Linked DNA regions of Homo sapiens. The protein of the gene in region 2 purifies or fractionates together with the protein of the main gene of each other region. This does not show direct contact. Each region holds a gene or a part of one and is shown on either strand. Other genes may lie near its edges. The genes, in order: SLC30A6, ST8SIA3, SUSD2, HFE, MANEAL, GLB1L2 and DNAJC16.

Evidence for each region.
Region 1: the proteins of ST8SIA3 (region 2) and SLC30A6 purify together in Homo sapiens (affinity purification with mass spectrometry; one large-scale study listed by BioGRID and IntAct). This does not show direct contact.
Region 3: the proteins of ST8SIA3 (region 2) and SUSD2 purify together in Homo sapiens (affinity purification with mass spectrometry; one large-scale study listed by BioGRID and IntAct). This does not show direct contact.
Region 4: the proteins of ST8SIA3 (region 2) and HFE purify together in Homo sapiens (affinity purification with mass spectrometry; one large-scale study listed by BioGRID and IntAct). This does not show direct contact.
Region 5: the proteins of ST8SIA3 (region 2) and MANEAL purify together in Homo sapiens (affinity purification with mass spectrometry; one large-scale study listed by BioGRID and IntAct). This does not show direct contact.
Region 6: the proteins of ST8SIA3 (region 2) and GLB1L2 purify together in Homo sapiens (affinity purification with mass spectrometry; one large-scale study listed by BioGRID and IntAct). This does not show direct contact.
Region 7: the proteins of ST8SIA3 (region 2) and DNAJC16 purify together in Homo sapiens (affinity purification with mass spectrometry; one large-scale study listed by BioGRID and IntAct). This does not show direct contact.

The regions. Positions count from the first base shown.
Region 1 is NC_000002.12:32,172,364-32,175,863, forward strand, and holds part of SLC30A6 (zinc transporter 6), read left to right. Parts: intron 1-1,699; coding exon 1,700-1,784; intron 1,785-2,955; coding exon 2,956-2,998; intron 2,999-3,500. UniProt on the Homo sapiens protein: Has probably no intrinsic transporter activity but together with SLC30A5 forms a functional zinc ion:proton antiporter heterodimer, mediating zinc entry into the lumen of organelles along the secretory pathway.
Region 2 is NC_000018.10:57,365,994-57,369,431, reverse strand, and holds the end of ST8SIA3 (alpha-N-acetylneuraminate alpha-2,8-sialyltransferase ST8SIA3), read right to left. Parts: 3' UTR 501-3,438; downstream 1-500. UniProt on the Homo sapiens protein: Catalyzes the transfer of sialic acid from a CMP-linked sialic acid donor onto a terminal alpha-2,3-, alpha-2,6-, or alpha-2,8-linked sialic acid of an acceptor, such as N-linked oligosaccharides of glycoproteins and glycolipids through alpha-2,8-linkages.
Region 3 is NC_000022.11:24,184,487-24,187,046, forward strand, and holds part of SUSD2 (sushi domain-containing protein 2 precursor), read left to right. Parts: intron 1-279; coding exon 280-454; intron 455-607; coding exon 608-809; intron 810-999; coding exon 1,000-1,085; intron 1,086-1,174; coding exon 1,175-1,443; intron 1,444-1,529; coding exon 1,530-1,673; intron 1,674-1,770; coding exon 1,771-1,929; intron 1,930-2,560. UniProt on the Homo sapiens protein: May be a cytokine receptor for GPR15LG. May be a tumor suppressor; together with GPR15LG has a growth inhibitory effect on colon cancer cells which includes G1 cell cycle arrest. May play a role in breast tumorigenesis.
Region 4 is NC_000006.12:26,093,929-26,097,428, forward strand, and holds part of HFE (hereditary hemochromatosis protein isoform 1 precursor), read left to right. Parts: intron 1-257; coding exon 258-298; 3' UTR 299-475; coding exon of another isoform or gene 476-483; 3' UTR 484-3,500. UniProt on the Homo sapiens protein: Binds to transferrin receptor (TFR) and reduces its affinity for iron-loaded transferrin.
Region 5 is NC_000001.11:37,796,847-37,799,239, forward strand, and holds part of MANEAL (glycoprotein endo-alpha-1,2-mannosidase-like protein), read left to right. Parts: intron 1-2,393.
Region 6 is NC_000011.10:134,345,488-134,348,987, forward strand, and holds part of GLB1L2 (beta-galactosidase-1-like protein 2 isoform b precursor), read left to right. Parts: exon of another isoform or gene 1-361; intron 362-1,837; coding exon 1,838-1,946; intron 1,947-3,500.
Region 7 is NC_000001.11:15,561,348-15,564,847, forward strand, and holds part of DNAJC16 (dnaJ homolog subfamily C member 16 isoform 1 precursor), read left to right. Parts: intron 1-794; coding exon 795-978; intron 979-2,581; coding exon 2,582-2,764; intron 2,765-2,935; coding exon 2,936-3,012; intron 3,013-3,500. UniProt on the Homo sapiens protein: Plays an important role in regulating the size of autophagosomes during the formation process.

The DNA.
Region 1 (3,500 bases), on a different chromosome or scaffold from region 2:
TTATCATTTCCCTCCTTTTTGTTCTTTTTTTTTTGAGATGGAATCTTGCTAAATTATCCAGGCTGGTCTTGAACTCCTGGGCTCAAGGGATCCTCCTTCCTCAGCCTCTTGAGTAGCTGGGATTACAGGGGTACACCACCACTCCCAGCTAGTATCATTTTCTTTTATATGTTCTCAACTCTTTTGTGCTCCCCTTCCCTCTGTCTTAATTCCTGGAAAATCCCTAACCTTCATTAAGTTCACTTTCTTTCTACTCTACTTGCATCTAAGCAACTGAATGTAACCTGAGAGAAACAAAACCATGCGACTGGTCTCACTTTGAATTCATGATCAGACAGACCATTAGTGCTGCCTATTAAGTGCTGCCTATTAGTGCTCTTTCATTTTATATTTCCTTTGTTCATTCAATTTTCCAATTTCCTAGATGGCTGTTTCATACGATGTTCTTTCGTTTCTATCCTCAAGCTTCTAATACCTTCTTCATCCTCACCCTAACCTGATGATCTTGCTTCCTGTTTCACCAAGGGAAAAGAAGTAATCAGAAGAAAACTTCTACATCCTATCATTAGCACATCAGCCATCACTCCGCCTTCCCTCCTATTTCTCTGGACAAGCTTTCAGTTCTTCTCTATAAAGGCAATCCTTTCACTTGTTGCCTACTGAAAGATGATGTCCCTATAATTGTTCTGTTTCTTACATCATTGTTTTTCTTGCATCATGCATCATTCTCCTCTTTCTTGCATCGTAATTACATGTTATAAGTTCCACTCTCAGGGCTGCTTCATTTCTCAGCTTCCTTTTGTAGCAAACCTACTTGAAAGAATTATCAGTACATTGTGTTCACCTTCTCTTCTCCTCATCTTTATTAAACACATACCAGTTAGGTACTTGTGCCCACTAATTCACATAAACAGCTTTTACAAGGTAACCAAAAATCTCTGTGTTGCCAAAATGAAGATTTTTCCTTATTTCTCACCTTACTTGGTTGATGTTGAACAGCCAAAGTCAGTACTTTTTTTTTTTTTTTTGAGACAGAGTCTCGCTCTGTCGCCCAGGCTGGAGTGCAGTGGCACAATCTCATCTTACTGCAACCTCTGCTTCCCTGGTTCAAGCGATTCTCCTGCCTCAGCCTCCCAAGTAGCTGGAAATAGAGGTGCCTGCCACCACACCTGGTTGATTTTTTGTTTTAGTAGAGACGGGGTTTCACCATGTTGGCTAGGCTGATCTTGAACTCCTGACCTCCACCCACCTTGGCCTCCCAAAGTGCTGGGATTGCAGGAGTGAGCCATTGCACCTGGACAAGATTACTAACTTTTAGGAACATCATCATGCCCTTTATTCAGATTCACCAGTTGCTTACATTTGGCCCCATTTGCTTCATCGTTGTCTCTATAATATGTACTTATAGAGACAAAACGATATGCATATGTATGTGTATTTTTCTCAACTATTTGAGAATTTCTATGTCAGAATTTATTTTCTCTTGAACAACTCTCCTTCTGGAACTATTCTTTTAAACTTGTATACTGTAATAACTTAGCCGATGACAATTTTGGTAGATGTAGAAAGTGTGACACAGACTTTTTGAAGGAAGTTATGTTTATTCCTTTGAATATCAGAGTATAAATTGTAGCAACTTGAACAGACCCCGTGAAATTTATCACTTCTGTACACATAAGAGTGATTTTTATTTTCACAGTCCTGGAAGATACTGCTCTTTGGTGTAATAAACTTGATATGTACTGGCTTCCTGCTTATGTGGTGCAGTTCTACTAATAGTATAGGTATGTCACCTTTGTATTTTTATGGAGTTGTTATTTTTACTTTTATTTTTCTCATTGGAAATAAAGGTATATCTTACATAGAATATATTATTCTGAAATGTATATAACTCAAATGATTTAAATAAGGGACTATATTTAAAACTTCCCTGTAAACTGTAAACTTTTGTTCATTTGTTAGGATTGTAATTTTTTTTTAAGTTTTTTTCCTTTTAAAATATATTTTAAAACAGAAATGGGGTTTCGCCATGTTGCCCAGGCTGGTCTCAAAATCCTGAGCTCAAACGATCTACCCACCTTGGCCTCCCAGAGTGCTGGGATTACAGGCGTAAGCCACAATGCCTGGCCATTTTCATTTTAAATAAGCTGTTATTTTTTGAAAAATCATTAAATCTATCTGGAGATTTTTTTTTTTTTTTTTTTTTTTTGAGACGGAGTCTCACTCTGTTGCCAGGCTGTAGTGCAGTGGTGTGATCTTGGCCCACTGCATCCTCCACCTCCCTGGTTCAAGCGATTCTCCTGCCTCAGCCTCCCAAGTAGCTGGGATTACAGGCACGTACCACCACGCCTGGCTAATTTGTGTAGTTTTGGTAGAGATGGGGTTTCACCATGTTGGCCAGGATGGTCTCGATCTCCTGACCTTATGATCCACCCGCCTCAGCCTCCCAAAGTGCTGGGATTACAGGCGTGAGCCACCGTGCCTGGCTGGAGATTTGTTTTTAATATAATAGATTAAAACTTTAATTTATGCAGTTTGTAAGTTAGATTTTGAGGTTTGTTGGCTTTTCCTTAAAAAGGGAATTCTGTAATTTTTTTCTTATATCTTTTTATGTTTTTTATTGCATTGTTCTTTTGTTCAGTTATTCAAACAATACATTTGAAATAGCGCTGAGATTACAGAAGCAGGCAGAAAAATGGTAACAGGGCTTTTGAACATTCATTGCTTCATTTTTCCTAATGGAGAAATCAGGTTGGGAAGTAAGCTTTTCTACCAACGAACTTTGGCTACATATATTTATCAGATTTACTAGATAACTGCCAATATATGAGGTTGGCCCGTGACTCAAAAGTTTTTTTGATAATGGATACCCCTGGTAGAAATAATTTTGGTAACTTGCTGTATTTTTTTAGAGGGGTCAGTAATACTTTTAATCATTTTTTTGTTGTTTTGCAGCTTTAACTGCCTATACTTACCTGACCATTTTTGATCTTTTTAGGTAAGTTTTTAGGAAATCTTAATGTTTTGGAGCTAATAAGGAACTTGGTAGAAATGTGGTATAGCCATACAATTCAGCAATAAAAACAGCAACTACTGATATCTTACAAGAAAACAATAAAAACATTATGCTTTGAAGACAGTCATAAAGGACCACATATTTTATGATTTCATTTATATGAAATGTCCAAAACAGGCAAATCTATGGAGAGAAAAAGTAGATTATGAAGAAGTTTTCTTTGCTTAAAGGAAAGTAATCTACTAAATAAGTAAAATTATCAACATAGAACAAACACACAAACAACAATAATTAGAGACATAACAGTAATTAGAGAGCAGGTGGGGCGGCTCATGCCTGCAATTCCAGCACTTTGGGAGGCCGAGGCGGGTGGATCACTTGAGGTCAGGAGTTTACGACCAGCCTGGCCAACATGGTGAAACCCCGTCTCTACTAAAAATACAAATAGCCAGGCATGGTGGTGTATGCCTGTAGTCCCAGCTAC
Region 2 (3,438 bases):
GGGGAAGGTTCTATGAGGAGGTGATCTAGAGAGAGCCTGGGATGGGGTGAAAGGTACAGAGGAAGGAGAACTGGACAGGGAGTCAGGCTGAGTTCTCATTTTGACTTGTCACTTAACTGCACAGCAGGGACAACTCCCTCAGCATCTCTCCCTCACCTGATTATTCATTAAATAAAATGATGTATGTAATAGTAACTTTCAAGAGTAATGTATTATTATTAATAATGTTAAGGCCTGTCACATGATTAGCATTTAAAGGACCAATGGAAAAGTTATGTGTAGGGACTTTGAGTATTTCCTGCTTGTTCATGGCTGTAGACAGCCAAGCTCACCCTTTCTGGGGTCCTACAAATTTCCAACGACCTCAAAACACTGAGAATATAAAACAGGAGGAAGCATTCAATCTCTTCACTGGATGAAATGTGAGTATGTGTTAGCACATGTATGTGTGTGTATGTGTGTGTGGGGGCTCTCCCGAATGTGACAGACAACCAGCAGTGTTTCCCAAAGCAAAACGAAATGGTTTATTTAAAAACAACGCATTCAGTACTGTGTTTGGAACACAAGGCAATGAGGCAGGCACATTCACACTTAACAAGTACATTTGAGGAGCTGTCGAAGCAAATGGTTGCATTTTCTTCACAAACTACAGTCACAATATACACGCAATTGCCTCTGTCCTTGTTCACCAAGAAAGCAGAAGATATTTACAAGTTCCTCAGTCTAGCAGTGCTGGCTTCTCTTGGGTCTCTGTGGCCCTCACATTCTGGCAGCTTGTTTCCAAGGGCAGGCGAGGCTGCCTGTCACAAGGGAGGTCAGTCTGATTTGTTAAGGCCCTCGGCTTCTTCCAAAGAGCAAGAGAACTTCTGACAGAGTTGGGAAAGAGGGAAGTTTTCAATACCAGTATCTCAGCATAAAATGGCACTTTCCAAAACAAATGCATCAAGTGTTGAGTGACGGGGTGAGCGGGCAGGGAATCACGGTATTAACAATATAAGAAGCATTTATTTTCCCTGACACATACTTCTTGCTCATTTATTTAATAACTTACATTCGCTATTCTTCTACTTTTTGACCTTTTGGTTTCATCATTACTCTTAAAGAGCTTTGCTCCTCCTTCTATACTGATACACTATTCTTTAAAATGCTGAAATGCAATGGTGAAATCAAAGTATGTTAAGCGAGAGAAGATATCACAAACATTCTTTTGTCTTGACTTCTAATTAATGCTTTCACAATTAATTGTCAATGTCCATCTAACTAATGGAAGCAGCACAGTGTGGTGTAGCAGAATCAGTGGTTGGGAGACCCAGACTCTAATTCCAGTTAGCTAGCTGGGCAAATAAGTCACTCCAACTTTCTGAACCTCAGTTGTCTCATCTCCACATGGAGGATGTTGATCTGGAATCCTGACTTGAGATAACATCTAGATCTGTAAAGTTTTGCTATGGACTTAGGTGGTTGTCCCATGTGAGTAAATGATAGTGTATTGCGATGTTTCCATACATTTGTTTTGTGTCCTGGGAGAATTTCAGTGCTAACTAATGATGCTTGGTGACCGGATCTCAGCCTGTTACTCAACTCCTCCCAGGGCTCTTGGCTGTAAGCGCTCTTGTGCTTTTCTGCACAGTATGGGTTCAGATCTGGATCTTGAAATATGGCTAAAGAGCACTTCTAACATGGGGTACAGTTATTCTCCATATTAAAAAATGGTCTAGATTCCTTCAGAGGGAAACCTCCCTCTTCTTTTTGCAAGTACTTCAATGACTTTATTCCACTTATGCAGGTTGACCAAACCTCTTTCCCATTGTCTGCCAATTTTTCTTCCCTGCCAATTTTCTTCCCTAAGACTAAAAATGCTATGGGAGTGGCTGGTTCCTCAAGAATGGTTTTCTGGTGAATTTGTTCATAATAAAACAAGGCCTACCTGTCAAGCCCCTTGTGCTTGTAGCTGTGGACTTCTCTGTTTGGTGTCAGGAAAAGAGCCAGAGGGTGAAGGCATACTTGTGCTCAGGCTGCATGCAATGTATTGGGAATACAGACATCTGAACATGCACCTGACTCATTTAAAATAAAATGTAGCTTGCTCAATGTAGAGAAACAAGCTCATTTCAATGACCATTAGGAAGAAAGAAAATAGAGGTATAACCTGGCATTTTACACATAGTATAGAAAATGTCCAACTTGCGTTTCAAGCATTTACAGTTTAGAAATGCCTTACAGAACCTGTAGGGTATTTTATTATAGCAACGGAAGTAGATTTGGTCCTTCATGATCTAATTTTGATTTAGTACATGCAGATAACAACTTACGGCCACTCACTGTGTCCTAGGAATTAGGCATATTTTTTCCCAGCATTGCCTCTCCAAAGATTTAATGAAGCCCACCTAAGAATGACTTCTACCAGAAAAATTTGCAATTTGCAAACAAAGCTTGTTCTGTGGATTACCAGATTACCTGATTTCTAAACACTCAGTTGGAAGTACACTCACAACTAGTGGTGAGAAAGGACAGTTGCTCTATTGCTCAATGCCAGGGGACTGCAGGGGCCAAATGTGTATTAGTAGATTTTTGTTTTTCATGGTCCAGCCTTACATCACATGACACCTTATCCTACAAAGTTTGCCCAGTCAGCAATGAAGTTGCCCAGAGATATTCCTACCAAGTGGTATTTCTTCACCGTTGGAAACTTTTCTAAGGGCAAATCAACTCCAGTTGAGTGCAACTTAAACTCTCAGCGTGATGTTTACTGGGTGTCCCCTGGTGGGGTAGAGACCTTGGAACCTCAGTGCCTTTCCAGATATGTAGAGCCAAGTGAGCTTACTGGGTGCCTTGTTCTTCCCCTGCTCCTTTGCAGGCACTGTTTTGTGGGTACCTGTATTTTTTTTATTGTGTCAGAAGGATGAGGGGCAAGTGGATAGGGAAAATGACAAAGTTGGGGAAACAAGTGATGAACTATAGGTATAGATTTTTTAAAAAAGATCAGCCAAACATGGTTTTAACTGGTAGTTAAATTAAAGAATGTTTTCCTGGAGGGTCACCCTTAGAAATTAGAAAAGCCACAGTTGGTAATCTCCCAAGATACTGGGGAGTCTGTTGAGAGGTTCCTAAGAGTCACGTGGAATATTTGAACACCTTGGGATCCAATAATATGCTCTTTTACTAAAAATCAGTAAAACTAACCAACATGGAAATGCTTCCCTTGGTGGAGGGGACATTTAAAAGTCCCTCCAAAGCCTCTGCTAGCCTCTCCTATTTGGTACTCACTGACTTAAAAATTGTTCAGGCAGTGCTATGCTGGAGCTGGCTCATGCTGTATTGGAGCCAACTTATACTGGCTCTTGAAAACATATTGTTGTGTTTTCAGCTGGTTGACATTAAGTTAGTAGCCTGAAATTGGCTGAGATGAGAGTATTTACACCATAGAAATTGGTAGGT
Region 3 (2,560 bases), on a different chromosome or scaffold from region 2:
GGGAGGGGGCAGCTCATGGGGCCTGGCTCCAGGGGAGGAGGCTCATGAGGAACCCCTGCACGGCTGGCATGGCCCTGGGCCCAGCTTCCAGCAGGGACAGGGATCCTGGAGTGTGGCAGGAGGTGATGGTCACCCAAGCCGGGGTCCCTGCTAGAACAGCCCCTCCTAAGGGGACCGCCTGGCGGTCCATCCACCCATCTGTCAGGCTGCTGTAGGTGGCAAGGCCTGGGGCCAGGCCTCGAAGGAACCCCAGGGCTAACCAGGCATCCTCTCCCTCAGGAATGCCCTACTCACAGGAGTGGACTGCAAAGTGGTCGTACCTGTACCCCCTGGCCACACACATCCCCAACTCCGGCTCTTTCACTTTCACCCCAAAACCTGCTCCTCCCAGCTACCAGAGATGGCGAGTGGGTGCACTTCGGATCATCGACAGCAAAAATTACGCAGGGCAGAAGTAAGAAGGCATGGATGTGCAGGTGATGGCTGGAGGGCCTCGCCGCCCGAGGCCCATCATGCTTGCCTGGGCAGCCCAGGCTGGGGGTGGGGAGAGTGGGGCGACCATGGGGTGGTGTGGGCTGGCCCAGCTCCAGCATCATCACCTCCACAGGGACGTGCAGGCGCTCTGGACCAACGACCACGCACTGGCCTGGCACCTGAGCGATGACTTCCGAGAGGACCCTGTGGCCTGGGCACGAACTCAGTGCCAGGCCTGGGAGGAGCTGGAGGATCAGCTGCCCAACTTCCTGGAGGAGCTGCCGGACTGCCCCTGCACCCTGACCCAGGCCCGGGCTGACTCCGGCCGCTTCTTCGTGAGCCTCCCATCAGGGCCCAGGAGAGGGGATGAGGGGTTAGCCTCCCCACTGAGGACAGCACCAGGGGAGGCAGACAGAGGTGTCCTGGAGGGTGGGGCTGGGGTCTCAGGACCCCTGCAGGGTTGGCCTCAGGGAGGGGATGACAGAACCCGAGGCCACTGGGTGACAGCCACCTGCTGCTCTGCAGACGGACTACGGCTGTGACATGGAGCAGGGCAGCGTGTGCACCTACCACCCCGGGGCCGTGCACTGTGTGCGTTCTGTGCAGGCCAGGTGAGCCCCCAGGCTGGGGCCGGTATGGGGATTGGGGTCAGGGGTGGGCTCCCAACAGTGGCCTGGCCCTGACTCACTGGCTCCTGCAGCCTCCGGTACGGCTCAGGTCAGCAGTGCTGCTACACAGCGGACGGGACGCAGCTCCTGACAGCTGACTCCAGCGGCGGCAGCACTCCCGACCGCGGCCATGACTGGGGCGCACCCCCGTTCCGCACGCCACCCCGAGTGCCCAGCATGTCCCACTGGCTCTACGATGTCCTCAGCTTCTATTACTGCTGCCTCTGGGCACCCGACTGCCCCCGCTACATGCAACGGCGGCCCTCCAATGACTGCCGCAACTACCGGCCCCCAAGACTGGGTGGGTGCCATCCCGTGCCCCAGACCCTGGGAAAGATCGGGCTGGGCTGGGGTGCACCCCCACGTGACCCTCCACTCTCACCCTAGCCTCCGCCTTCGGAGACCCACACTTTGTGACCTTCGACGGCACCAACTTCACATTCAATGGGCGCGGAGAGTACGTGCTGCTGGAGGCAGCGCTGACCGACCTGAGGGTGCAGGCGCGGGCCCAGCCCGGGACGATGTCCAACGGTGAGGCCAGGGCTAGGGGCTGCTCTGGTTGGCATGGGGTAGAACCAAGGTGGGAGGCTGGAGCCAAGTGGCTCCCGTTCTGCTCCCACCACCGCAGGCACGGAGACCCGTGGCACTGGGCTGACCGCAGTGGCCGTCCAGGAGGGCAACTCAGATGTGGTGGAAGTCAGGCTGGCCAACAGGACCGGAGGTCTGGAGGTGCTGCTGAACCAGGAGGTGCTGAGCTTCACCGAGCAGAGCTGGATGGACCTGAAAGGTGAGCAGTCCAGCCACGCGAGGCTGCGGGCTGCCCTCACCTCCTCCCCATTCCTGCAGGGAGACTGAGGGGAAGCCCTGGGCCTTCATGCCTCTCCCAGTCCTGGCTAGAGGCCTGGGTGGTCCGACCTCAGGCCTTCACACCCACCGAGGTGCCCCCGTCGTACCCACCTGGTCAAAAGCCGAGAGGCCGTGACGGTGGGACATGTCCTCCCTACGGAGGATCCCGGGAGCCTTCTGGAGGGGAACTCACCCTGGTAACGTTCACCGCTGGCCTGCACAGAGCCACTCCTGTGCTCCTGTCACTCCCTCAGTCCTCAAAAGCCACTGCAAGGTCTCCAGCCCTGCACGGTTAAGGATGCCCCTGGCAAGTGGTAGCTCCACATCTGAACCCCTTGCCTCAGGGAACTGAGTCAATGAAAGGATTCCTGGTTGGGATGGGTGAGGACCTGGGAGGGGCCTGTCAGCACTGAGGGTTCAGGGACCCTCGGGACGTGCCCAGGCAGGTGTGGCTGCTGCAGCCAAGGCCAGAGGGACCCACACGTGCATCTCAACATGGGGGATTCACTGCAGGGGCTGCACCTCAGGTGCCGCTGGGAGTTCCACCGCAAGCATGGCAGGGGTGGCGGAGG
Region 4 (3,500 bases), on a different chromosome or scaffold from region 2:
TGTCATTGAAGGATCCTAAGAAAGGAGGACCACGATCTCCCTTATATGGTGAATGTGTTGTTAAGAAGTTAGATGAGAGGTGAGGAGACCAGTTAGAAAGCCAATAAGCATTTCCAGATGAGAGATAATGGTTCTTGAAATCCAATAGTGCCCAGGTCTAAATTGAGATGGGTGAATGAGGAAAATAAGGAAGAGAGAAGAGGCAAGATGGTGCCTAGGTTTGTGATGCCTCTTTCCTGGGTCTCTTGTCTCCACAGGAGGAGCCATGGGGCACTACGTCTTAGCTGAACGTGAGTGACACGCAGCCTGCAGACTCACTGTGGGAAGGAGACAAAACTAGAGACTCAAAGAGGGAGTGCATTTATGAGCTCTTCATGTTTCAGGAGAGAGTTGAACCTAAACATAGAAATTGCCTGACGAACTCCTTGATTTTAGCCTTCTCTGTTCATTTCCTCAAAAAGATTTCCCCATTTAGGTTTCTGAGTTCCTGCATGCCGGTGATCCCTAGCTGTGACCTCTCCCCTGGAACTGTCTCTCATGAACCTCAAGCTGCATCTAGAGGCTTCCTTCATTTCCTCCGTCACCTCAGAGACATACACCTATGTCATTTCATTTCCTATTTTTGGAAGAGGACTCCTTAAATTTGGGGGACTTACATGATTCATTTTAACATCTGAGAAAAGCTTTGAACCCTGGGACGTGGCTAGTCATAACCTTACCAGATTTTTACACATGTATCTATGCATTTTCTGGACCCGTTCAACTTTTCCTTTGAATCCTCTCTCTGTGTTACCCAGTAACTCATCTGTCACCAAGCCTTGGGGATTCTTCCATCTGATTGTGATGTGAGTTGCACAGCTATGAAGGCTGTACACTGCACGAATGGAAGAGGCACCTGTCCCAGAAAAAGCATCATGGCTATCTGTGGGTAGTATGATGGGTGTTTTTAGCAGGTAGGAGGCAAATATCTTGAAAGGGGTTGTGAAGAGGTGTTTTTTCTAATTGGCATGAAGGTGTCATACAGATTTGCAAAGTTTAATGGTGCCTTCATTTGGGATGCTACTCTAGTATTCCAGACCTGAAGAATCACAATAATTTTCTACCTGGTCTCTCCTTGTTCTGATAATGAAAATTATGATAAGGATGATAAAAGCACTTACTTCGTGTCCGACTCTTCTGAGCACCTACTTACATGCATTACTGCATGCACTTCTTACAATAATTCTATGAGATAGGTACTATTATCCCCATTTCTTTTTTAAATGAAGAAAGTGAAGTAGGCCGGGCACGGTGGCTCACGCCTGTAATCCCAGCACTTTGGGAGGCCAAAGCGGGTGGATCACGAGGTCAGGAGATCGAGACCATCCTGGCTAACATGGTGAAACCCCATCTCTAATAAAAATACAAAAAATTAGCTGGGCGTGGTGGCAGACGCCTGTAGTCCCAGCTACTCGGAAGGCTGAGGCAGGAGAATGGCATGAACCCAGGAGGCAGAGCTTGCAGTGAGCCGAGTTTGCGCCACTGCACTCCAGCCTAGGTGACAGAGTGAGACTCCATCTCAAAAAAATAAAAATAAAAATAAAAAAATGAAAAAAAAAAGAAAGTGAAGTATAGAGTATCTCATAGTTTGTCAGTGATAGAAACAGGTTTCAAACTCAGTCAATCTGACCGTTTGATACATCTCAGACACCACTACATTCAGTAGTTTAGATGCCTAGAATAAATAGAGAAGGAAGGAGATGGCTCTTCTCTTGTCTCATTGTGTTTCTTCTGAGTGAGCTTGAATCACATGAAGGGGAACAGCAGAAAACAACCAACTGATCCTCAGCTGTCATGTTTCCTTTAAAAGTCCCTGAAGGAAGGTCCTGGAATGTGACTCCCTTGCTCCTCTGTTGCTCTCTTTGGCATTCATTTCTTTGGACCCTACGCAAGGACTGTAATTGGTGGGGACAGCTAGTGGCCCTGCTGGGCTTCACACACGGTGTCCTCCCTAGGCCAGTGCCTCTGGAGTCAGAACTCTGGTGGTATTTCCCTCAATGAAGTGGAGTAAGCTCTCTCATTTTGAGATGGTATAATGGAAGCCACCAAGTGGCTTAGAGGATGCCCAGGTCCTTCCATGGAGCCACTGGGGTTCCGGTGCACATTAAAAAAAAAATCTAACCAGGACATTCAGGAATTGCTAGATTCTGGGAAATCAGTTCACCATGTTCAAAAGAGTCTTTTTTTTTTTTTTGAGACTCTATTGCCCAGGCTGGAGTGCAATGGCATGATCTCGGCTCACTGTAACCTCTGCCTCCCAGGTTCAAGCGATTCTCCTGTCTCAGCCTCCCAAGTAGCTGGGATTACAGGCGTGCACCACCATGCCCGGCTAATTTTTGTATTTTTAGTAGAGACAGGGTTTCACCATGTTGGCCAGGCTGGTCTCGAACTCTCCTGACCTCGTGATCCGCCTGCCTCGGCCTCCCAAAGTGCTGAGATTACAGGTGTGAGCCACCCTGCCCAGCCGTCAAAAGAGTCTTAATATATATATCCAGATGGCATGTGTTTACTTTATGTTACTACATGCACTTGGCTGCATAAATGTGGTACAAGCATTCTGTCTTGAAGGGCAGGTGCTTCAGGATACCATATACAGCTCAGAAGTTTCTTCTTTAGGCATTAAATTTTAGCAAAGATATCTCATCTCTTCTTTTAAACCATTTTCTTTTTTTGTGGTTAGAAAAGTTATGTAGAAAAAAGTAAATGTGATTTACGCTCATTGTAGAAAAGCTATAAAATGAATACAATTAAAGCTGTTATTTAATTAGCCAGTGAAAAACTATTAACAACTTGTCTATTACCTGTTAGTATTATTGTTGCATTAAAAATGCATATACTTTAATAAATGTATATTGTATTGTATACTGCATGATTTTATTGAAGTTCTTGTTCATCTTGTGTATATACTTAATCGCTTTGTCATTTTGGAGACATTTATTTTGCTTCTAATTTCTTTACATTTTGTCTTACGGAATATTTTCATTCAACTGTGGTAGCCGAATTAATCGTGTTTCTTCACTCTAGGGACATTGTCGTCTAAGTTGTAAGACATTGGTTATTTTACCAGCAAACCATTCTGAAAGCATATGACAAATTATTTCTCTCTTAATATCTTACTATACTGAAAGCAGACTGCTATAAGGCTTCACTTACTCTTCTACCTCATAAGGAATATGTTACAATTAATTTATTAGGTAAGCATTTGTTTTATATTGGTTTTATTTCACCTGGGCTGAGATTTCAAGAAACACCCCAGTCTTCACAGTAACACATTTCACTAACACATTTACTAAACATCAGCAACTGTGGCCTGTTAATTTTTTTAATAGAAATTTTAAGTCCTCATTTTCTTTCGGTGTTTTTTAAGCTTAATTTTTCTGGCTTTATTCATAAATTCTTAAGGTCAACTACATTTGAAAAATCAAAGACCTGCATTTTAAATTCTTATTCACCTCTGGCAA
Region 5 (2,393 bases), on a different chromosome or scaffold from region 2:
TTGGTGGGGATCAAAATGGAGGTAGGGATAGAAGGTTTGGAGGGGCAGGTCAAGAGACACAGGGCATAATGCCTGTGTTTCCCAGCAGCTGTTTTATAGTAAGAGAGTACTGGGCCTAAAGTCAGGCAGCCTGGGTTTCAATTCCTGTCCTGTGGCTTCTAATCTGTGATGAGGCAAGCCTCTTAACCTTTGAGTCTTGTGAGAATCACACGAATTAATATATGTGAAAGTAGCTTCTACAATGTAGGCACCTCATTTATTCATTCAGAAAGTATTGAATGAAGGCCAGGCATGGTGTAATCCCAGCACTTTGGGAGGTCGAGGCAGGCGGATCACTTGAGGTCAGGAGTTCGAGACCAGCCTGACTAACGTGGTGAAACCCCGTCTCTACTAAAAATAAAAAAATTAGCCAGGCGTGGTGGCGCACACCTGTAATCCCAGCTATTCAGGAGGCTGAGGCAGGAAAATCGCTTGAATCTGGGAGGCGGAGGTTGCAGTGAGCCGAGATTGCACCGCTGCACTCCAGCCTGGGTGACAGAGCGAGATTCCATCTCAAAAATAAATAAATAAATATTGAATGAGGCTGCGTGCAATGGCTCATGCCTGTAATGCCAGTGCTTTTTTTTTTTTTTTTCTTTTTTTGAGACAGAGTCTCACTCTGTTGCCCAGGCTGGTGTGCAGTGGCACAATCTTGGCTCACTGCAACCTCTGCCTCCTGGGTTCAAGCGATTCTCCTGCCTCAGCCTCCTGAGTAGCTGGGATTACAGGTGCCCACCACCACACCCAGCTAACTTTTGTATTTTTGTATCTTTAGCTGGGCGTGGTGATGCACAGCTATGGTCCCAGCTACTTGGGGGGCTAAGGTGAGTGGATCACTTGAGCTCAGAAGTTTGAGGTTACAGTGAACTATGATGGCACCACTGTACTCCAGCCTGGGATTTCACCATGTTGGCCAGGCTGGTCTTGAACTCCTGACTTCAGATGCTCTGCCCACTTCGACCTCCCAAAGTGTTGGGATTACAGGTGTGAACCACTGCACCCGGCCTCCCAGGGCTTTGGGAGGCAGAGGTGGGAGGATTGATTGCTTGAGGCCAGGAGTTTGAGATCAGCCTGGGCAACATAGCAAGACCCCATCTCTACTGAAAAAAAAAATTAGCTGGGCATAGCAGTGCATGCCTGTAGTAGTCCTAGCTACTTGGAAGGCAGAGGTGGGAGGATCACTTGAGCCCAGGAGTTTGAGGTTACAGTTAGCCACAATTACACCACTGCATTCCAGCTGAGAACAGAGCAAGATTCTGTCTCTTAAAAAAACAAACAAAAAAAAAGAGAGTATTGAGTGCCTACATGTGTCCAGGCACTGACTTAAGCCCAGTTGTACAGTAATGGGTAGGACTAGCGAAATTTCTGATTTCATAATGTTTACTTTCTAGTGTATGTTGCAGGTACTGTGGAGCAGACAGTAATTAAATGGGAAAAATCAAACAGTGATCTGTACAGGATTTTGTGCTAGAGTGTGCCCACGATGCTACTTAAGAATGGATAGTCAGGTCAGGTGAGTCTGAGGAGACAACAGGTGAGCTAACACCTGAATGAGCAGTCAGGGCTGGGTGTGGTGGCTCACACCTGTAATCCCAGCACTTTGGGAGGCTGAGGTGGGAGGATCACTTGAGGCCAGGAGTTTGAGACCAGCTTGGGCAACATGGGGAGACTCTATCTCTACAAATTTTTTTTTAAACATTAGCTGGGCATGGTGATGCATGCCTATTGTCCCAGCTATTTGGGGGGCTGAGGTGAGTGGATCACTTGAGCCCAGGAGTTTGAGGTTGCAGTGAGTTACGATGGCACCACTGTACTCCAGCCTGGGCGATACAGTGAGACTTAAGAATAAAAAAAAGAAAAAAGAAAAAAAAGCCCAGGCCCAGTGGCTCACACCTGTAATCCCAGCACTTTGAGAGGCTGAGGTGGGTGGATTGACTGAGGTCAGGAGTTCAAGACCAGCCTGGCCAACATGGTGAAACCCCATCTCTACTAAAAATACAAAAATTAGGCAGGTATGGTAGCGGGTGCCTGTAATTCCAGCTACTTGAGAGGCTGAGGCAGGTGAATCACTTGAACCCCAGGAGGTAGAGGTTGCAGTGAGCTGAGATCGCCCACCGCACTCCAGCTCTGAGCAACAGAGCAAGACCCTATCTCAGAAAAAAGTAGTAATAATAAGAAGAAAAAAGAAAAGAAAAAGGGTCAGCTCTGCAAAGATCCGGAGGCAGGGAGAAAATTCCAAGCAGAGGGCTGGCAGATGCAAGTCCCATAAGATGGAACAAGCTTGCATGACACATGAGAGCCGGATAGAAAGGCCAGATGGGGAGTAATAGCTGGGAAAAGAGCAGGAATGGAGT
Region 6 (3,500 bases), on a different chromosome or scaffold from region 2:
TGAGACAGAGTCTTGCTCTGGCACTCAGGCTGGAGTGCAGTGGTGTGATCTTGGCTTACTGCAACCTCCGCCTCCCGGGTTCAAGCGATTCTCCTGCCTCAGCCTCCCGAGTAGCTAGGGTTACAGGTGTGTGCCACCACGCGCAGCTAATTTTTGTATTTTTAGTAAAGACAGGGTTTCACCATGTTGGCTAGGCTGGTCTGGAACTCCTGACCTTGTGATCTGCCCACCTCGGCCTCCCAAAGTGCTGGGATTACAGGCATGAGCCACCGCGCCCGGCCTTCCCTATCTCTTTCTTAGGAATGTTACCAAGCATATTTTGAAAAGTCCAAGTATTTTGATAAAGTATAAGAGAAACAAATTCTTGTTATGGTTTTGTCTTCCTATCTCGGCCCACGTGTGTCATCTTCCCAGTGCTAGTCTTGGCTGAGTTTGGTGTTCTGTGGTTGGAGTGGAAATCTGGACAGGAATCAGCTGGGACTTCATTCATTCCTCATCCTCAACATTGTGGCCTTTAAGATTTTCTTGTTAACTGGTGTAACCTTTCTCAGCCTCCCAGTGTACCAGGTGGTTAGACCCAGACTGCCTCAGGGAAGAGGCTGATCCTTGTCCCCAAGCCGTCTCCCCTCCCCTGGTCCCTGGGGAGCCCTGGGCTTCTTTTCCTCCTGGTTTCCAGCATGACCCGCCCTTCCCTCGGGGGCATAGCTTCTGTCTCCACTACCCAGGGCCACTTCTCAGGCACTGATCCATCCAGCCTGGTAGGCTCACCCTAGTCACGAACACAGCCAGGGCAGCCTCTCCCATCCCTGTGGATTAGAAAGCTGTGTGCCACCGTCAGCGATTTCCTCGGCTCAGCCGGGGCCGGGCACAGGAGGACGAAGGGTTTAACAGTCTTAACTTAGAAGCAGTGGGGAGCTGTGGCACTCAGACTCCCCCTTCTCACCCCGCCCATGTGGCACCTGGCCATGCATGAGAGGGGCATGTGGGCACACCTGCGGAGGGGGCGTCCGGGCGTGAGTGAGAAGGCTAACCTGTCAGGTGGGGTTAGAATGTGGGGGTGTCGGTCTGGAGGAAACTGCTCTCTCCTCACCCCTTGTTTGACCCACAGAAATGGGATAATTTCCTGACCCTGTTTAGGACTTCCAGACCAGGGCAAGAGGAGCCTCAGAGCCTTTTGTTAGAAAATATGTGTCTTCTCAGAACCTGAAGTGAGAAGGAAGAGCCCTGACTCCAGCTTTGGAACCAATCCACGCTGCTGTGTTCCTCTGGGGAGTTTGGGATCATAGCAACAGGGTGGAGGGAGAATTCAACTCTTGCTCACCTGCTGCTCTGGGCTGTGCGCCACTGATGCCAAGGCGTTAGCCACGTTGGCAAGGATGGGGACTGCCTCCTGCTCAGCCCCTCGCAGTCTCTGTCAGGCTTGTTTTTTGGGGTGACGCTAGAAGGTTGTGTCTCCTCCTTCCACAGCCTCAGTGATTCCTAACCCTTTTGACTTCACTTTTTGAAATGGGATCACAGAGCAAGTTGTTGAAAACTAGGCCTGGAGTCCTGTGAAAAGCTTTTCTCACTGCTGGCAGCCAGGCCCTGTAGCTGTGGAGCTGGAAATGAACTTCCACCAGGCTGTGTCCTTGGGGAGGGAAGCTGCAGGAGTGCGGGTGGGTGCTCGCCCCAGAATCGGTTTGCATTGTCTCCCCACTTCTGGGCTCAGTGGGGTGGAGGAGGGCACAGGTCATTCTGGAGCACTGGGGGGCCTCTCCCTTCTCACGCATCAACAGCCTGCTCACAGCAAACCCACTGTGACACTAACATCCTTCCTTTCCCCCGTTTACACTTCAAGCTGGCTACTCCAAGACCCTGGCATGAGGCTGAGGACAACTTACAAGGGCTTCACCGAAGCAGTGGACCTTTATTTTGACCACCTGATGTCCAGGGTGGTGCCACTCCAGGTACAAGCAAATGGGGTCTTCTTTGATCTTGGTCTGTCTTCCTCTAGGTCGTGGATCATCCTTGGTTAGTTCTCAGACCAAGGGTCCTCCAGTGTTTTGAACACACGAGCAGGCTCTTCCTCACCGTCCGAGACTCGTAACTGAGGGGCTTGCAAGAGTTGTCTTTGGAAAGATCTGTGCATTTCAGTGTTGTCTCACTTGGGTGCGTTACTGAAAGGACAGACAGATGTAAGGGCTCACATTGCCACATACAGCACTGGAGAGACAGGGATGCTGTGATAGCCGGGAACACGCATCCACTGGCATCTCCATGGTTCCACAGAGACAGGGATGAGGTGATAGCCGGGAACACCCATCTATCTACCAGTGTCCCAGTAGCACTGCGGCTCAGTTTTGCACAGGGTGGAGCACATGTGGATTAACCTTTGCCTATAAGACTGCAGGACTTTTTATAAATTATAAAATTCCTTTCGCTGACTTTACGAGATACTTCCCTCTGCTACCAAAAAGGTGCTGCATGGTACACACTTACTATTCAAAACATGCGTTAAAGTACGTTTTGGGGGAGGAAGTACCTTAATATTTTATATAATAATTGGAAGCTTTGGAAAGCAGGAATGGGAAAAATCAACCCAGTTGCTGTGTAAAACCAGAAAGAACGGCATTGAGAAATTAGTACATCAATAAAAAATTAGTTCAAGTCAGTGGTATGGAATACTCACCACACACATAAATCAAAGGGAACTGCCAGATGAAACACAGGATGCTCAGTTATATTTGAGTTTCAGATAAGCAAGGAATAATTTTTTAGTGTAAATATATTCCAAATATTGCATGGGTCATACTTACACTAAAAAATTATTTGTTGTGAATTCAAATTTAACTTTATGTCTGGTATTTTTGTTTACTAAATCCGGCAGCCTTAACCATGACAGAAGCAAGGAACTAGGAAGTCATTAGCCTAGATCTTGCTGGGAAGCTGGGGATCAGCAGGTTGTAGGAGTCGGGTGGGCAGCAGGATGGCCGTCCTGGGAGCAGGCTCAGAGGCACTTGCAGACGTGCAGCGGGTCACCAATGCATCTTTTTGAAATAAACGATAACATAATTATTATTATTTAACATATTTAAATAATCACATAGTTATTTAATTTTTGTGACTATGGGATAGTATACATAACATAAACTTTGCCATTTTAACCATTTTGAAATGTACAGCTCAGCGGCATTGAGTCCACCCACACTGTTGTGTGCTCATCTCCACAGCCTTAGTTCAGGCTGCCACAACCAAACACCTAGACTGAGTGGCTTACAGACAAAGAAATTCATTTCTCCCAGTTTTGGAGAGTGGGAAGTCCAAGAACAAAGCACTGGCAGATTCGGTGTCTGGAAGGGCCCCCTTCCAGGGCATATACGGCCATCTTCTTGATGCAACCTTACATGGCAGAGAGCGTCAGAGAGCTCCCTGAGGTCCCTCTTATAAGAGCACTAGCCCTGTTGGCAAGGACTCTATGCTCATAACTAATCACCACCCAAAAGTCCCACCTCTGAATACCG
Region 7 (3,500 bases), on a different chromosome or scaffold from region 2:
CCAGCCCTCCCTATACTGGAAGAACTAGGACAAATAGTTTCTAAAAGGCCCTGCCGGCCAGGAACAGTGGCTCACGCCTATAATCCCAGCACTTTGGGGGGCTGAGGCAGGCGGATCACTTGAGGTCAGGAGTTTGAGACCAGCCTGGCCAACATAGTGAAAACCCGTCTCTACTAAAAATACAAAAACTAGTTGGGTGAGGTGGTGCACGCCTATAATCCCAGCTACTTGGGAGGCTGAGGCAGGAGAATGGTTTGAACTCAGGAGGCGGAGTTACAGTGAGCCGAGATCACACCACTACACTCTCCAGCCTGGGCGACAGAGCAAGACTCCATCTCAAAAAATAAAATGAAAGGCCCTGCTGCATCAGAGATTCAGTGACCAACCCCTTAAATTCCTGGCAGGCACGATGGCTCATGCCAGTAATCCCAACACTTTGGGAGCCTGAGGTAGGAGGATTGTCTGAGGCCAGGAGTTCAAGACCAGCCTGGGCAATATAAACAAAACTATATATATATAGTTTTCATATATATAAAATTTCATATATATAAAATTTTAAAATTCGTAAATGTGGTAAAGAAGTTTGGTTTGGGAAAAACATCACAGATTGGGAAGAGAAACAGTTTGTTAATGACTTGGAAATCCTCCCTTAGTTGAAATGTCAGCTTTCACTGGGCACAGTGTATTCACTTCCATAAGATGAGCTCCTCGTCTTCTTCACCTTCACTTGCCATTATAGGTGCTGGCCCTGCCATCAGGGATTGGTTATAAAGTTTTGTCTTTTTGTTGTGCAGGTACTGTGTGGTTTTATTGACTGCTGAGACTACCAAGTTGAGCAAACCCTTTGAGGCTTTCCTGTCCTTTGCCCTGGCAAACACTCAAGACACAGTGAGATTTGTGCATGTCTACAGCAATCGGCAGCAGGAGTTTGCCGACACCTTACTACCAGACAGTGAGGCGTTTCAAGGGAAATCAGCGGTAAGCCACAGAGTCTCTCCTCATCCCAGGCTCTTCATAACCATGTGGCACTTGATTCTGTTTCCTTCTTCCTTGAGAGTGTTGAATACAGATTCTAGGAAATCTGAAACTCTGAAGCCTATTTTCAAAGTCTACTCTTTTGTTTTTCCTTTTTCTTGATTTTTTTTTTTTTCTTTTGAGACAGGGTCTCACTCTGTCTCCCAGGCTGGGAGTGCAGTGACATGATCTCAGCTCATTACAGCCTCGACCTCCCAGGCTCAAGTGATCCTCCCACCTCAGCCTCCCACATAGCTGGGACCACAGGCACACACAACCACGCCTGGCTAATTTTTTGTATTTTTTTGTAGAGATAGGGTTTCGACATGTTGCCCAGGTTGGTCTCAAACTCCCGAGCTCAGGCAATCCTCCCGCCTCCCAAAGTGCTGGGATTACAGGCATGAGCCACTGCTCCTGGCCTAAAGCCTACTCTTAAAACAGTTTTTGACCTGGTCTTTTTACATTCTGGATGTCAGCCTCAGGCCCCCACAGAAACCATGTTTTCTATCAGTGAACGGTAAAGGTCATCAGTGCTTTTCACCAGTTTTTTACTAAGGCAAGTCTGGTCTTGCAGCATCCTAGATCCTAGATTTTACAAATCCTTAGGCCACTGGTAATGTGCTCTGGAAATTTCTGCCCCCCTCTGCCTCTTTAACTTCATCCTGGTTGATCTCTCCTGCCTTTCTCCTGCATTGTCATCACTTCCTACAGAAACAAGAAATTCTCCTCTGACTTTTCATCATTTTCGCAATCATGGAAAATCTCTCTAAAAAACAAAGGTTTCCATTAATATTAAGTCAAGGTTATAGAGCAAAGTCTATTGAGAAAAAAGAGCTTTAACTTTTAACAAAAGCTTAGGAAAGTCACCATAAAAGTTATTTCTTAGGCCGAACGCGGTGGCTCACACCTATAATCCCAGCACTTTGGGAGGCCGAGGCGGGTGGATCACTTGAGGCTAGGAGTTTGAGACCAGCCTAATCAACATGGTGAAACCTCATCTCTACTAAAAATACAAAAATTAGCTGGTGTGGTGCACACCTGTCTGTAGTCCCAACTACTCAGCAGGCTGAGGCACGAGAATTGCTTGAACCTGGGAGGCAGAGGTTGCAGTGAGCCAAGATCGCACCATTGCACTCCAGCCTGGGAGACAAGGGCGAAACTCTGTCTCAAAAAACAAACAACTGGGCCAAGTGTGGTGGCTCACAGCTGTAATCCCAGCACTTTGGGAGGCCAAGGCAGGCAGATCACGAGGTCAGGAGATCGAGACCATCCTGGCTAGCATGGTGAAACCCCATCTCTACTAAAAAAAAAAAAAAAAAAAAAAAAAAATACCAAAAATTAGCCAGGCATGGTGGCAGGTGCCTCTAGTCCCAGCCACTTGGGAAGGCTGAGCCAGGAGAATGGCGTGAACCCGGGAGGCGGAGCTTGCAGTGAGCCAAGATCACGCCACTGCACTCCAGCCTGGGCGACAAAGCAAGACTCCGTCAAAAAAAAAAAAAAAAGCAAACAACTGTAACTTAACCATGCTTTTGAAACTTCTGATGTTTTTTCTCTACTTTTCTTCCAGGTGTCTATTTTAGAAAGGCGCAACACAGCAGGAAGGGTGGTGTATAAAACCCTGGAAGACCCTTGGATTGGGAGTGAGAGTGACAAATTTATCCTCTTGGGCTATCTCGACCAGCTGCGTAAAGATCCAGCTCTTCTGTCCTCTGAAGCAGTGCTTCCTGACCTGACCGATGAACTTGCCCCTGTGAGCATCGGGGCTGGGAAGGGTGGGACACCAGGAGGGCTTGTGAGTACACAGTGCTGGTGGCGGATTTCTGCTCAGAGCAGAGGTCCAGCAGCAGCACTGTGTTGCAGGGTAGAGGGACTCTCCCTTCCGGCTTTAGTCCTGACCATCATCCATTTTCTCTCTACATAGGTTTTTCTCCTTCGATGGTTCTACTCTGCTTCTGACTACATCTCAGACTGCTGGGATAGCATTTTTCACAACAACTGGTAGGGATATTGCCAGGCTGAATTTCTTTTTCTCTGTTAATACTGATATCACTGTTTTTCTTTTGAAAAGAGTTCATCATTATTAAATTTCAAGGTACACTTGATGGGGCAAGTGGAAGAACGTTTACACATTTTCTATTCCCCTTTTTCTTTCTTTCAGTAACTTCCCTTTTTTTTATTTTTTACTTTTTTTTTTTTTGAGACAAAGTCTTGCTCTTGTCCCCCAGGCTCAATCTGGGGATCACTGCAACCTCCGCCTCCCAGGTTCAAGCAATTCTCCTGCCTCAGCCTCCTGAGTAGCTGGGATTACAGGCACCTGTCACCATGCCTGGCTAATTTTTGTATTTTTAGTAGAGATAGGGTTTCACCATGTTGGTCAGGCTGGTCTCAAACTCCTGACCTCAGGTGATCCACCCGCCTCGGCCTCCCAAAGTGCTGGGCTTACAGGTGTGAACCACTGCTCCCGGACATTTTTTATTTTTTATTTT